Linked DNA regions of Homo sapiens: region 1 is linked to region 2. The links come from fine-mapping of genetic effects on gene expression. Tissue or cell type: whole blood. Region 2 holds a variant in brackets; the other region holds the start of a gene. All regions are shown on one strand. Distances are between the middles of the regions.

The links. PIP is the estimated chance that this variant, and not a neighbour inherited with it, causes the effect.
Region 1: it holds the start of TPP1, and the variant in region 2 is fine-mapped to the expression of TPP1 in whole blood (INTERVAL, PIP above 0.99).

The regions. Positions count from the first base shown.
Region 1 is chr11:6,617,359-6,621,358 of GRCh38, reverse strand. It overlaps TPP1 (tripeptidyl peptidase 1), which reads left to right and starts at 1,937. Exons shown (of 13, transcript NM_000391.4): 1 at 1,937-1,975; 2 at 2,092-2,163; 3 at 2,444-2,583; 4 at 3,583-3,733; 5 at 3,931-4,000. The coding sequence starts at 1,959. It overlaps DCHS1 (dachsous cadherin-related 1), which reads left to right. Exons shown (of 21, transcript NM_003737.4): 21 at 1-29. RefSeq lists an enhancer at 1,567-1,616 and a silencer at 2,167-2,216.
Region 2 is chr11:6,759,425-6,764,912 of GRCh38, reverse strand. No RefSeq gene overlaps it. Among named protein-coding and RNA genes, the nearest start is that of OR2AG2, 9.8 kb to the left of the region's middle. The variant G/T (reference allele first, on the strand shown) is at 2,997.

The DNA.
Region 1 (4,000 bases), 140 kb after region 2:
TCTGGAGCCTTAATAAACTGCAATTTGTATCCAGTCTCCAGCTTTGTTCTATAGGGATGACTGGAAGACACCTGGCAGAGTATTGTGGATACCTCAGGAGGCACAGAGGGGTGGTGGGGTGGGGATGGCACTGGGAGCTCAGGAGCCTAGCCTGAGGCTGATGATCACATCTCTCTGCAGCTATTCTTTTCCCTCTAATATGGGCAAAGAGGCCAGCAGGGCCTTGAGAGGGATCAGTTGGGTGGGAGAGGGGATCTTGGGGATGAGCAGCTCTGGGCCCGAAGTTCTTAAAATAAGTTGGGGTGGGTACAAGAGCAGTCAAGTGGTTTATTTGTTCTTCTTGGGGGCCACTAAAAATCCACATTGTAAAAAGAGCTCAATTTGTTGAGCCTTTGTCATGTCAGGCTCTCTGCAGGTGGCTGCCTTGCTTAATCTCAGTGTAAATTTTCACAGTCATACAAAGGGATTTGGGAACCACTGGTGTTGCCTGTTCTTTGGGGAGCCAGGCTGTGAGGGAAAGGCAATTGGCCAGTGTTTGAGAAGTTCATGAGATTGAGGAAATTAGAAAAAAAAAAAAAAGTTGTGGTCAAAGGGAAATGTTTCTGAGCATGATGCTAGTAAATACAGCTCTAGGATCCACGCTTAGTGGGAAACTGGAGGGATCAATGGACAGAGAGAAGTCAGATTAATAGGAGTGAGGAAAAACAATGGCTTGAAAAAACAGAAGGTTATAGTCTAAGAAAGCATTCTATAATTATAATTTCAAAGGTAGAGCAGTTTTGAGAGATAGCAAGCCCAATGCAGCCATGGGACTGGTTTGCTTAAGTGAAGTGAAGGTAATGCTCACTGGGTTTAATGAGATGAAGAAATGGAAGGTTAGGGTGTTGAATGGGTCTTTTACCTAGATATTTTGATCATCTAGGTCAAATGATCGCAGGAGTTGGGATGGACAGAAAGGTGAAGTGCCATAATCTTCAGTGTGGGAATATAATCTATAGGTTAATGGAAGCCAGTGGCCTGTAGGACAACAGCAGGAGTAGAGGGATCTATCTAAAAAGTATTGAGGTCAGAACAAGGGATTTCACATGAGTATTGGATTAATGGTTTTGGAAGTTAAAATGACACTGCTGACACCATCTTCCATATGGATTTTTGGGGGGAAAAAAAGGAAGACTGGAAGGGAATTGAATCCTCAGGGTTTTAACTCTCATTGAAAATCCTCTTGTAATGACCCCAGTTGGAAGTAGTAAACTCAGACCTCCTTGTGGGCTTTGAGTTACCATTAGAAGAAGCAAAGGTCCGTTTCCATTTTATCCACCTGAGCCCACTAAACAAGATGCAAGATTCCTCCATGGCCCTTAGAACAAAGTTGATTTCCTTGAAAACCTTGGGAACCCATAATAAACAGGACCCCAGCTGATTGTAGATCTCCTGGGAAGCTACTTAAAACTGGAAACTGATTTGAATAAAAGGATCCTGGTCTTGCAAAAGCTTTACTCTGTTCATAAATGTAGTCGTAAAATGAAGACAAAATTGATAATATGGGGACATAAAGGATAAAAGAGGAAAAAAATTTTTTCACTGCAATCTTTCGAGGCAGATCACTTTTATATAAGTCTCCATATTGTAAATGCAGAAACCTAGGCTCTGAGAGGTTATTTTGCTGATGTCATACAGCTAGGAAGAACCCCAGTCTGTGGGTCTCTACAGCCCACTCACTTGTGGTGATTCCCAGGGGACCAGGCTCAGGACGCAGGTGGGGAGCCCTGGGCTTACTCAGTGCTTGACTGGCCAGAGGGGAGAATCCGGGTGGCGGCCCCACCCTTGCCTAGCATTTGGGACCACCCATGCAAGGGAGGAGCCAGTACCGTCACTAGTTACTAGGCAGAGGGGTAGTGGTGGTGGAATATAGAGCTCATGTGATCCGTCACATGACAGCAGATCCGCGGAAGGGCAGAATGGGACTCCAAGCCTGGTGAGAAATTGAGAGGGCTCGGGAGAAAGGGATCACGTTGGAGGGAGCACACATTGGGAGGGTGGGAACACAAGGACAACGTAGCTCCCACTGAAACCCACCTGCTGCCCCTACAGCCTCCTAGGGCTCTTTGCCCTCATCCTCTCTGGCAAATGCAGTTACAGCCCGGAGCCCGACCAGCGGAGGACGTGAGTTGACTTAGCACAGACTGCCCCCTTCCCCATACCCTGTTCTGCCTCCCACTGTCCTGGTCCTAGCTTCTCTCACCCCCGTGCCAGCTCCTAGTACGCACTCCATAGCTTCATCTCTATGTTCCTAGCCTCAGTCCCCTATCATTCACCTCATGTGATCTGTATCTGCTCCTAGGATCCTCCCCAAGGTCTCAGCTCCTAATCTGGAACCTTCCATGACCAATATTTTCCATCTCCACCCTAACCAAAGCCATGTCCCTGACCCCTGACCCTACAGGCTGCCCCCAGGCTGGGTGTCCCTGGGCCGTGCGGACCCTGAGGAAGAGCTGAGTCTCACCTTTGCCCTGAGACAGCAGAATGTGGAAAGACTCTCGGAGCTGGTGCAGGCTGTGTCGGATCCCAGCTCTCCTCAATACGGTGCCTTTTGGGACTGAGGACAGGATGTGGGATGCGGTGGAGGGACACAGGGCTGGGTTGGGCATGGGATGGCGATCATGTCAGAGCCTGCCAAGACACTTGTGTTCCTCAGGCTAGAAACCTAAAAGGGGATGTGGTTCAGTATACAGGCTTTATGATCAAATACGAACTCAAATTCTGACTCTGCTACTTACTAGCTACCAGGCATCTAGTACAACTTACGTTCCTTCCCCTACCCTCAAATCCATTCTAATTTCCTCTTTTGTTCACATACTAAGGCTGCCAGTTCTAACTCCCAAAGAGCCTTTGGATTAATCTCCTTCTTGCCGTCTTTTGTTACGACCAACTCCGTTATTTATTCCCACTCCTGGACTACTGCCCAGCTCCCCAGCTGATCTGCAGTCTCCTCCCTCCACCCCACCCCTCACTGTACTCCCCCACTCTGCTTCAAAACAGTCTCTCCAACAGTCAAAATGGATTGGTTCCTTCTCCTGGTTAAAGCCCTTCACAGCAGGGGGAGTGTGTGCTTGTGAACTGCAGAGGCTGGGGACGGGGCAGTGTGACACTAGTGTGCATGGCAGGAAACAGTGACTCACCATCGTGTTAAGCTTAAAATCAACAAGTATGCAAATTTGAGCTAAACTGAATAACTGGTACCGAAAGATTTGAAAACATTTACCGGACATAAGCTTAAAATTAAAATGGAAAATTTATATGTATTAACCTCATTCATTTTCATGATCATGGCAATACATGCTGTGGTGCGACATTTGCAACTTACTGGCCTTTAGGGTAAATCCATATTATTGGCCATGGCATTTCAAGTCTCTCCAGCCTTTTCTTCCTCTGCTTCCCAAGTACACCCTACACCTGCACACATAGCCCTCCTTTACCCTGTTCCAGGCTTTGGGAAGTCCTGATGTCTCATAGTTGAGGTCCAAAAGGGGGAGTTTGGGAAAGCAATGAATGAGGGCAAGTGCCTCTTCTGAATCCCTGCAGGAAAATACCTGACCCTAGAGAATGTGGCTGATCTGGTGAGGCCATCCCCACTGACCCTCCACACGGTGCAAAAATGGCTCTTGGCAGCCGGAGCCCAGAAGTGCCATTCTGTGATCACACAGGACTTTCTGACTTGCTGGCTGAGCATCCGGTGAGAGGAAATGATTGCTCCATGGAGGGCACCAGTCATCCCATCAGTGAGATGGATGGGAGGGAGTTGAGAGCTTGCTGGGGCTTGTGGGTGGGAGCTAATGCATGGGGAGACAGTGACTGACTGCCCAGGGATGCTCAGAGGTAGCTTCTTCTGTTCCGTTTTGAGCTTTCTGACCTCTGTTCTCTGACCTCCAGACAAGCAGAGCTGCTGCTCCCTGGGGCTGAGTTTCATCACTATGTGGGAGGACCTACGGAAACCCATGTT
Region 2 (5,488 bases):
ATTAACCCTTTATTAGATGTATGATTCAAAATATTTGTATCCGTTCTATAGGTTGTCTTTTCACTCTAATGATTATTTCCTTTGCTATGCAGAAGCTTCACTGTATAAATGCAGCATATCACATTTACTGTTTTGCACACGTTGAACCATCCTTGCATCCTCGAAGTAAATCCCAGATTGATCATTGTGAATGATCTTTTCAATGTTCGGTTGAGTTTGGTTTGGTCATATTTTTGTTGAGAATTTTTGCATCTATGTTCATTAGATGAATTGGCCTGTAATTTTGTTTTCTTGTAGTGTCATTCTCTGCCTTTGGTATCAGAGAAATACTTCCAAAGTAGGCAGAGACAGCATGAATTCAAAGACAATTTTCAGGCAAGGGAAAACAATTACAAACAGTTCTTCTTTTTTTTTTTTTTTACTTTAAGTTCTAGGGTACATGTGCGCAACGTGCAGGTTTGTTACATAGGTATACATGTGCTATGCTGTTTTGCTCACCCATTAACTCGTGATTTACATTAGGTATTTCTCCTAATGCTATACCTCCCCCAGTTCCCCACCCCACGACAGGTCCCAGTGTGTGATGTTCCCCGCCCTGTGTCCATATGTAGTCATTGTTCAATTCCCACCTATGAGTGAGAACATGTGGTGTTTGGTTTTCTGTCCTTGTGATAGTTTGCTCAGAGTGATGGTTTCCAGCTTCATCCATGTCCCTGCAAAGGACAAGAATTCATCCGTTTTTATGGCTGCATAGTATTCCATGGTGTATATGTGCCACATTTTCTTAATCTAGTCTATCATTGTTGGACATTTGGGTTGGTTCCAAGTCTTTGCTATTGTGAATAGTGCTGCAGTAAACATATGTGTGCATGTGTCTTTATAGTCACATGATTTATAATCCTTTGGGTATATATCCAGTAATGGGGTCACTGGGTCAAATGGTATTTCTAGTTCTAGATCCTTGAAGACTCGCCACACTGTCTTCCACAATGGTTGAACTAGTTTACACTCCCACCAACAGTGTAAAAGCATTCCTATTTCTCCACATCCTTTCCAGCACCTGTGGTTTCCTGACTTTTTAATGATCACCATTCTAACTGGGGTGAGATGGTATCTCATTGTGGTTTTGATTTGCGTTTCTCTAATGACCAGTGATGATGAGCATTTTTTGATGTGTCTGTTGGCTGCATAAATGTCTTCTTTTGAGAAGTGTCTGTTCATATCCTTTGCCCCCTTTTTGATAGGGTTGTTTGTTTTTTTCTTGTAAATTTGTTTAAGTTCTTTGTAGATTCTGTATATTAGCACTTTGTCAGATGGGTAGATTGCAAAATTTTTCTCCCATTCTGTAGGTTGCCTGTTCACTCTGATGGTAGTTTCTTTTGCTGTGCAGAAGCTCTTTAGTTTCATTAGATCCCATTTGTCTATTTTGGCTTTTGTTGCCATTGCTTTTGGTGTTTTAGTCATGAAGTCCTTGCCCATGCCTAGGTCCTAAATGGTATTGCCTAGATTTTGTTCTAGGGCTTTTATGGTTTTAGGTCTAACATTTAAGTCTTTAATTCACCTTGAATTAATTTTTGTATAAGGTGTAAGGAAGGGATCCAGTTTCAGCTTTCTACATGTGGCTAGCCAGTTTTCCAAGCACCATTTATTAAATAGGGAATCCTTTCCCCATTTCTTGTTTTTGTCAGGTTTGTCAAAGATCAGATGTTTGTGGATGTGTGGTATTATTTCTGAGGGCTCTGTTCTGTTCCATTGGTCTTTATCTCTGTTTTGGTACCAGTACCATGCTGTTTTGGTTACTGTAGCCTTGTAATATAGTTTGAATTCAGGTAGCATGATGCCTCCAGCTTTGTTTTTTTGCTGAGGAACAATCAGTTTATCTTAATGTGGGTTCCCTCAGAATTTGATTCTGAGCAAGAATTTGAATACGTAATATATTTAGGAAGTAATTCCAGGAAAAACTAGTAGAATTTGCAAGAGGGAAACAGACAAAGAAAAGACTCAATAACGAGTGAGTTGTCTTATTGTGGGCAACTGATTCCTAATCTTCTTAAGGAATTCTTGGAAAGAGTAGAACATGTATCTCAGAGGTATACCTCAACTACGATGTAAGAGATTGTGTAGGCCATTCTTACATTGCTATAAAAAATACATGAGATTGGGTAATTTATAAAGAAAGGCTTAATTGGGTCACAGTTCTGCAGGCTGTACAGGAAGCCTGGCACTGGCAACTACTCAGATCTGGTGAGGCTTCAGGGAGCTTTTATTTATGGTGGTGAAGGCAAAGCGGGAGCAGACATGTCACATGGCAAGAGAGGGAGCGAGAGAGAGTAGGGGAGAGAAGGTACCACACACTTTTAAACAATCAGATCTTGTGAATAGTCACTATTGGGAGGACAGCACCAAGCCATGAGGGATCTACACCGATGTCCCAGTCACCTCCCACCAGGCTCCTCCTCCAGCACTGGGGATTACAATTCAATATGAGATTTAGAGGGGACAACATCCAAACTCTATCAGAAATCTAGGGGTTTTTACACACCAATTCTCATCAATTATCAATTAAGGCGGCTTGGTGTAGGGCACATTAGTATCTTAGGCCATTCTGATCTTCTGGGCAAGTGGGCATAACTGGCATGTTAGCCAAAGAAAGTTCTGTTGCAAAAGATGGCTGTCAGATGTCAGCATGCCCTGAAATGATAAGTTAAAAGAATATGTAGTGGGCATTGCCCTCATTTGCTACAGTGTAAAACAATAAAGTTTATAACAATGAATTTCCAGAAGTATATTCTTAAATTTACTAGAATGTTCAAAAAGAAAAAGAAATAATTGAATGATGAGTCTGGTGGAGCAGACTCATAATTATCATGAACTCATAATAATATGAGTATATGAATAATAATATGCTCTAGTGGAGCAGACTCATAAATATTATGGTACATTATTTTAAGCTTACACTCCTTGACTCAACTTCCCAAAAGTTCAGTTAGATTATT[G/T]TCTCTATACTAATGTCATACCATAGAAATATTACCTGAAATCTAAAAATAAAACAATATTTGCCATGTACCTCCACATTCTAAACTGAGGTGCTACACCATTAGGGAGGACGTACATGGAGGTGATCAAGAGATGGCATACAAGCGTTAAGCCTTCAACTTTTTTAGGGTATGAAAGAGAGAGACAGTTGGAGGTTGGTGGAGAGGAATATTTGAAGTTATCTCTCAGAGTATTCTTTTACCCCTCCCTCCATAAGGAAAGAAGGAACTAATCTTAAGTTTGTTGATGAGAGATTGAAAAGTACTACTGGAGAACTTCGTGTCTCTTATCTGGAATTTGGTGAGTGCTAGAACAAGTACCTTCCTCACACATGCCCAAAGTAATTTATAGATTCAATGCTATCTCCATCAAGCTCTCATTAACTTTGTTCACAGAACTGGAAAAAACTACTTTAAATTTCATATGGAACCAAAAAAGAGGCCGCATGGCCAAGAAAATCCTAAACAAAAAGAACAAAGCTGGAGGCATCATGCTACCTGACTTTAAACTATACTGCAAGGCTAAAGTAACAAAAACAGCATGGTACTGGTACCAAAACAGATATCTAGACCAATGGAACAGAGAGGCCTCAGAAATAACACCACATGTCTACAACCATCTGATCTTTGACAAATCTGACAAAAACAAGTAATGGGGAAAGGATTCCCTGTTTAATAAAAGGTGTTGGGAAAACTAGCCATATGCGGACAACTGAAACTGGACCCCTTCCTTACACTTTATACAAAAATTAATTCAAGATGGATTAAAGACTTAAATGTTAGACCTAAAACCATAAAAACCCTAGAAGAAAACCTAGGCAATACCATTCGGGACATAGGCATGGGCAAAGACTTCATGACTAAAACACAAAAAGCAATGGCAACAAAAGCCAAAATTGACAAATGGGATCTAATTAAACTAAAGAGTTACTGCACAGCAAAAGAAACTATCATCAGAGTGAACATGCAACCTACAGAATAGGAGAAAATTTTTGCAATCTATCCATCTGACAAAGGGCTAATATACAGAATCTACAAAGAACTTAAACAAATTTACAAGAAAAAAAACAACCCCATCAAAAAGTGGATGAAGGATATGAACAGACACTTCTCAAAAGAAGACATTTATGCAGCCAACAAACGTAGGAAAAAAAGCTCATCATCACTGGTCATTAGAGAAATGCAAATCAAAACCACAATGAGATACCATCTCACCCCAGTTAGAATGGTGATCATTAAAAAGCCAGGCAACAACAGATGCTGAAGAGGATGTGGAGAAATAGGGACAATTTTACACTGTTGGTGGGAGTGTAAATTAGTTCAATGATTGTGGAATACAATGTGATGAGTCCTCAAAGATCTAGAACCAGAAATACCATTTGACCCAGCAATCCCATTACTGAGTATATACTCAAAGGATTATAAATTATTCTACTGTATAGACACGTGCACATGTATGTTTATTGCAGCACTATTCACAATAGCAAAGACTTGAAACCAACCCAAATGCCCATCAGTGATAGGCTGGATTAAGAAAATGTGGCACATATGCACCATGGAATACCATGCAGCCATGAAAACGATGTCCTTTGCAGGGACATGGATGATGCTGGAAACCATCATTCTCAGCAAACTAAGAACAGAAAACCAAACACCGCATGTTCTTACTCATAAGTGGGAGTTGAACAATGAGAACACATGGACATAGGGAGGTATCACACACTGGGGCCTGTCATGGGTGGGGGACTGGGGGAGGGATAGCATTAGGAGAAATACCTAAGGTAGGTGACGGGTTGATGGGTGCAGCAAACCACCATGGCATGTATATACCTATGTAACAAAACTGCACGTTCTGCACTGTACCCTAGAACTTAAAGTATAATAAAAAAATTTTTTTAACTGGTTGGTATTCTCTACTGAAGTTGAAGATATGTATATGCCATAACCAAGCAATTCTACTTGTTGTATATGCCTGACAGAAATGTGTGTATATGTGCACCAAAAGACATGTGCAAAACTATTTATAGCAACACTGTTTAAAATACCCCAAAGCTGAAAACAACCCACATGTTTGTTCATCAGCATAAAGGATAAATAAACTGTGATCTAGTCATACAATGCATTATACAACAAAGAAAATGAACTACGAGGCCAGGCGCAGTGGCTCACACCTGTAATTCCAGCACTTTGGGAGGCTGAGGCAGGCAGATCACACAGTCAGGAGCTCGAGATCAGCCTGGCCAACATGGTAAAACCTGTCTCTACTGAAAAAATGCAAATATTAGCTGGGCGTGGTGGCAGACGCCTGTAATCCCAGCTCTCAGGAGACTGAGGCAGGAGAATCATTTGAACCTGGGAGGCAGAGCTTGCAGTGAGCCGAGATCGTGCCATTGCAATCTATACTACAATGCTATAAACTATACTACAAGGCTAAAGTAACAAAAACAGCATGG